2 separate regions of the Homo sapiens genome follow, and region 1 is linked to region 2. The links come from fine-mapping of genetic effects on gene expression. A gene starts in region 2. The other region holds a variant in brackets. All regions are shown on one strand. Distances are from middle to middle.

The links.
Region 1: its variant is fine-mapped to the expression of NRG4 in lung (GTEx, PIP 0.97).

Annotation. Positions count from the first base shown.
Region 1 is chr15:76,056,564-76,059,488 of GRCh38, reverse strand. It overlaps a transcript of NRG4 not described here. Among named protein-coding and RNA genes, the nearest start is that of TMEM266, 2.0 kb to the left of the region's middle. RefSeq lists a silencer at 462-511 and enhancers at 1,995-2,044, 2,235-2,284, 2,345-2,394. The variant A/C (reference allele first, on the strand shown) is at 1,718.
Region 2 is chr15:76,010,780-76,013,704 of GRCh38, reverse strand. It overlaps NRG4 (neuregulin 4), which reads left to right and starts at 1,281. Exons shown (of 6, transcript NM_138573.4): 1 at 1,281-1,386; 2 at 2,419-2,484. The coding sequence starts at 2,475.

The DNA of each region.
Region 1 (2,925 bases), 46 kb before region 2:
CAGCTGAGAATGGGAACCTCCCGTCGCTTTGGCGCAGCGCTTTGCAGTTTCCAGAGCTCTTTCCCAGTTGCTCCGTTTCATCCGCGCGGGGCGCCCGGTGAGGGAGCGGATGGCACGCAGTGCCCGCTGCGCTTGGAGGCCACCGAGGGGAAAACACCTCTTTCTGTGTGGCCGGAGTCATAGCACGGTCAGAGTGCCTTGACTCTCAGTTGGCTGCCTGGGAGAAAAATACCTGTCAGTACATTCATTTGATGGCCTCAGCTCAGGACCCTTGTAGGACCGTGTTTCTCCTCTTTTTCCGTTTTTCGTTATCTGACTCTTAAAAAGGCTTTTTACACGTCCCCATCTCCTTTCCCCGTGAAATCCCAGTACCGCAGATACACTGTCGACCTGCTTATGTGCTGTATGTGTTATCCGTGCTTGATGCATAAAAAGTAACATTGCGCCCCTTGGAGGCAGCATCGCCCCGGTGGAGAAGCCTGTCCTAGGGCCATGATTGCCAGTTACCGGGTGGGTTAAACGGAACCACTGAGCAATCTGGATGCACCCACAGATATTCTCTGTGGTTAAAAAAAAAGTCCTCACCCATAATGGGTACTACTCTAATTAATGTTTGCAAGGGCTGCTGTGAATACGGCCATTTAAGCAGCTTCTGGATTCATAGTAGCTTATTATCGTTTGTCTTCTCCACCAATTCTTGCTAAAAATATAGCCATTTTCCTATAGGGTGTTGCGATTTTTATCTTAAAATATTTGAAAAGATGGGAAACCCTTGTTTCTAGGACACGGAGTTTCAGAATGGCTTTTGGCTCTGCAGATAGGTTTGATTTCTGATTCTTGTACCTCTTCTAAAGTGTTTTTATTTGATTAGGTCCAGTTGGCCTCCCAGGAATGTCCTTTGTCTTTTCTTCCTGCCGTAGCTTTTTTAGTATGGATAAAATGAAAATGGTAGAGTTGAAGGACTTCAAAACCACCTCTTGGAATTGCCCCACGGTCTTGGACTACCTTCCCTGGATTATACGGGAATATCTATACAGGGAGTATCTACTTTTGGCAAACTGAGAAAAAAATGTAAAATTTCTTCAGATCCTCCTTCGCCTTTCAGCATTTCCTACTCATCTCTAATCTCTAATGGTGGAATTTCAGAGGAAGAAACACTTGGAGATGATACTTGTGGAAGCTACCTGGGTTGCCAAAGGATTTTTCTACATTTCTAGACGGAAGAAATGTGGACTAGAATAGAGAAAGTGGAGATGGGTTAAGAAAAATTAATGGAGGATGCACGGGAGGGGAGCTATAGTTTTCTGACAGTCAGTGACAGCATTTTAACTAGGTACACTTTCTTTAGAAAAAGCTTTGGCATAGCTTGCCCAGATTGTTATCCACTCCATTTTCCACCTTAGTAGAACTCTACTTAAGATTTGATTGAAACTATTGAGAAGCATCCAGTTATAACGCTAATTAACTCTCAGAGTACGACAAGTATTTTGAAACTTGCTGAGAGAAATTTGAAGACCACTTCAAATTTCTACCAGGAATCTTTGTATCCTAATAAAATTTTTTTGAATTCGGGTTCATGCGACTTCAAGGGAACATTTTTTTCTACAATGGCTATTTATAGTATAATAGCCATTGTAGAAAATATTTATATTTATAAATATTTATATTATGTATTTATAATATAATAGCCATTGTATTGAAAATTACATGCTAATAA[A/C]GTTTACGTGTGTCTTAAGTGTTCTGGGTTTTGTCCTTTTCTGAGTAATCCGAGTTAATGGAAATTGTAGGTGCAACCATTTCATGTTGTAGTGTGAAGTCAAAAATCCCAAAACATGTATAATTTGTCAACTCTATGCTGCCCCCTGGTGATGTCTTACTTCACAGCACCTCCCCAAACTAAAATCTCCCTTCGATAAATTTTTTAGGGTATTGAAAACTTAAGTGTGGACGAGATGCCATTCTGCATTCTTCAAACTGGGCCTTCTCTTGTTTTCAAATACCCTGAGGCCTAACACCGGAGGAGGATTAGCCCTTGAGGCTGATGAGGCTAGAGGAACTGTGAAGATCTGCCACAGATCTCACTTTCACTTGGAGCATTATTCTTGAACTTAACTGGCTTATAAGACTCACTTGGGAACACTTGCTTAAAATCAGATTCTGTGAGTCATAAATTCAGCTGATTAGAAAAAAAAATCGGATTCTGGAGCCTCCTTTCAAACACCTTGAAATCTAATATCAGGGGGTTGACTTGTGATTTTTTTTTTAACTGCCCCAGGTGATTCTTATTGACAGGAGAGGGTGGGGGAATCCTAGAGCTATAAATAGTACAGGTGCTGCTTCAGTACACTGCAGGTGACTAATGAGAGGAATTTTGTGAGTAAAGGAGCTTAGTAGCAACAGGAAAGTATAAGAGCTGTAAAGCAGAAGTGGAACTGTGGGTTTAAGCTTGGTATATCACTTCCTTGCCAGACATAACTGTTCGTTTCTAACGTGGCTGTAGTTGGCATTCTCTCTCATACCAAGATACCTTTTGAGGTAAGTCAGATTTTCTTTTAGTTAAAAAGACTGCCTTTTCAAGAGTACCAGGATCACATAAATGGAAAATTTGTACATGTATGTAGCTGCAAGATTATGGGAGGATAGATTAGAGATGATGTTGATCCTGTGAATGTCTGAAAAAGATTGGTAGCAGAGTTAAAGCTTTTGTTCTCTTGAGATAGTTGCTTGTGAAAATAGAACAAGTGAATCTGATGCCATGTGATTTGTGAAAATTTGAATAATGCCCAAAGTCCTTAAATTGTTAATGTGATATAAATGTTAATATTTTGAAAGCTCTTCTAAATGTTATAATATAACCTCACTTATTTGGAATGTACAGGTAGAAAGCCAATCTGAGTTGGTAAAAGCCTGAAAAATGGAATATAT
Region 2 (2,925 bases):
CGTGGAATACTATGCAGCCATAAGAAAGGATGAGCTCATGTCCTTTGCAGGGCCATGGATGAAGCTGGAAACCATCATTCTCAGCAAACTAACACAAGAACAGAAAACCAAACACCGCATGTTCTCATAGGTGGAAATTGAACAATGAGAATACATGGACACAGGGAGGAGAACATCACACACTAGGGCCTGTCGGGGTGGGGGGCTAAGGGAGGGATAACATTAGGAGAAATACCTAATGTAAATGACAGGTTGGTGGGTGCAGGAAACCAGCATGGCACTTGTATACCTATGTAACAAACCTGCATATTCTGCACATGTATCCCAGAACTTAAAGTATAATTTTAAAAATGTAATAATGAACATTTTTTTTTTTTTGAGACGGAGTCTCACTCTGTTGCCCAGGCTGGAGTGCAGTGGTGCAATCTCAGCTCACTGCAAGCTCCGCCTCCCGGGTTCACACCATTCTCCTAATGAACAGATTGTTTTTAGAGTATTTGATTTTGAGTTTATTTTAATATTTTCTTAAAACAACAAAACAAACTTATTAGTTTGGGCTTTACATCAGTCAAGTAATAATGTCTGAATTGTCGTTTTAGAAAAGATAACCATCTAAATGTTTGGCATATTTTAGATAATTATATGATGAAGAACTCTATATTCATTTAAACAAAATTACAGTTTTAGTCAATATTTTAAAATTGTTTATGATTTTTAAAACTTAACTTTCCTCACTGTATATTTAACAACTTTGCCATAGCATTCAGGCATTACACTGTCATTGGTATTAGTCAAGTTCAGTGATTTTATTCATTTCAAATTGAACTTGGTGTTACAAGTTTTATTATAGCTATTACCTTCTTTTAGCTTTATAAGTTCTTCAGGTCATTATTTATATAAATTTTATCTGGCTTGTAAGGTAACACAAACCTCATAAAACATAAATTTAAAAAAATGTTTTTTTAATTTGTGAAACACTTATCTATTAGCTCCACATTAAAATTTCTTTTCTCCCAAACTTACACTACGTCTTGAATTATTCAGACAAGCAAAGATAAGTAAGGAGTCTAAGGAATGTGGTTTGGTTTTTACCTTTAAAACGTGGACAGTAATTTGGAAGTGCAGCTTAGTTCAACTCCTTTTCTAAATAAAATTCTGCTCCATTTGCAACTCTGAACACGTAAATTGAAGGGGTGGCTCCCGTGGCCAGTGCCTGACCTCTGTGCACACCTTGGTCTGGCGTGACCTCGCCCACACTGCACACTGCAGCCATATAAATCAGATTTTTGACATGTTATAAAATGCAAGTCACAGCTGCTGTTGTCTGCGGTATTCAAAAACTTTTGAAACACTGCATGTCCAACAAAATTTATTTTTTGTGTGAATGTAAGTTTTTATTGAGGGTAAGTCCTGTTTGTTTGGAAAAAAGAAACAGTATGAGTCAGTGCTTTTTAAAAATCAAATAGATTTAATGTTCTCCTTCCTGCCTGTTCTCGCTCGTGTGTGTTTCTCTCGATTGCTTGCTCGCTTTCTCTGCCTCTCTGCTTGTCTAAGAAAGAGCTGTTGGCTTTGAGAGAAGACCTTGGTATTACAACTGTGTTAGTAGATTGAGATTTCTGTTAGAGTCTTTCTGTTTAGGTCAGAAGTGTTCTTTATAGAACAGAACTGGGAGCTTGTAATCATAATGTAAGTATAAATGCTTCACCTCTTCAAATATATGTTTGAATTCTTTTGTTTCTGTTATAGCAGGAAACTTCATATGTAAGAATGTCTTATTAGCTACATTGCTTTGCCAGATGCCAGACATTTTTGTGTGTGTGTGGGGTTAACATTTTTTTTCTTTTTTAAATTTAATTTTAAGTTCCGGGATAGATGTGCAGGACGTGCAGGTTTGTTACATAGTGTGTTTATAACATGTGTGCCATGGTGGTTTGCCGCACCTATCAGCCCTGGACATTTTTTAGAAGAAAGGTTTGCATAGGTTGGTAAATGTAATGTGCAATCTATGGTAAACTTAAAAGTGCTTTTATAAAAGTTTTAAAGGTTCAGTTCATTCAGTTTTACTTACTGTCTCATCGTTCATGTAAAATTCCATGTAGTACTCTACTATGTTAACAATGTTTACGAAAAAAAGCCTTATTAGACTTTTCTGCAGAGAGATATTTAAGATTAAATTACATTATTTAGGCAATGATTTATATTAAGTACGTTATTGATCTTTTAGTTTTGTTCATATTTTTTACTGAAATGCAATAGGTATCTAAAAATGCTGTAACTAAAATTTGTCCCTAGTATATAAATGTCTTTATTATTTTATTTTCAACATTTAAGAATATTGCTATTAGAATATTTGACATTTTATAATGCCCTTAAAAGAAGACTATTTTCCCTGAATTATTACTTTTTAAACCGTTTTAGGTACTGTTTTTCAACCCTACTCTCTTGACCAAGAATGAAACTATTTACAAATTAAGATGCCAACAGGTAATTTCTTATATATTTATATGTTTTTGTCAATATGTGTCCATAGCAATAGAACAACAATCAAAAATGTATATTAACACAAGGCTGTATTATTCCCTTCCAACATCATTGGAAGAGATGTGAATATGAAATTAATATTTCAAATATGAAATATTTGGTTTTGAGAGACCTTCCTTTGTGACATAAAGCTATTTTATTTTAGATATATGTGTTTTATTGGTTTTATAACCTGATAAATTCTAGCTTGTCCTATATCTGAAATCAGCTCAAATAATAAGGAAATAGAAGTCAGAATAAAAGTAGATTCAGAAATAATGATTCAGGTTAGATGAGTTTTCTTTATTGATAAAATAAATGCCAAGTGTTGAGATATGTCTGACTATAATCCAATTAAAACAAGGACACTAATCTTAGCTGTGATAAAGTTACATTCCACCCTCA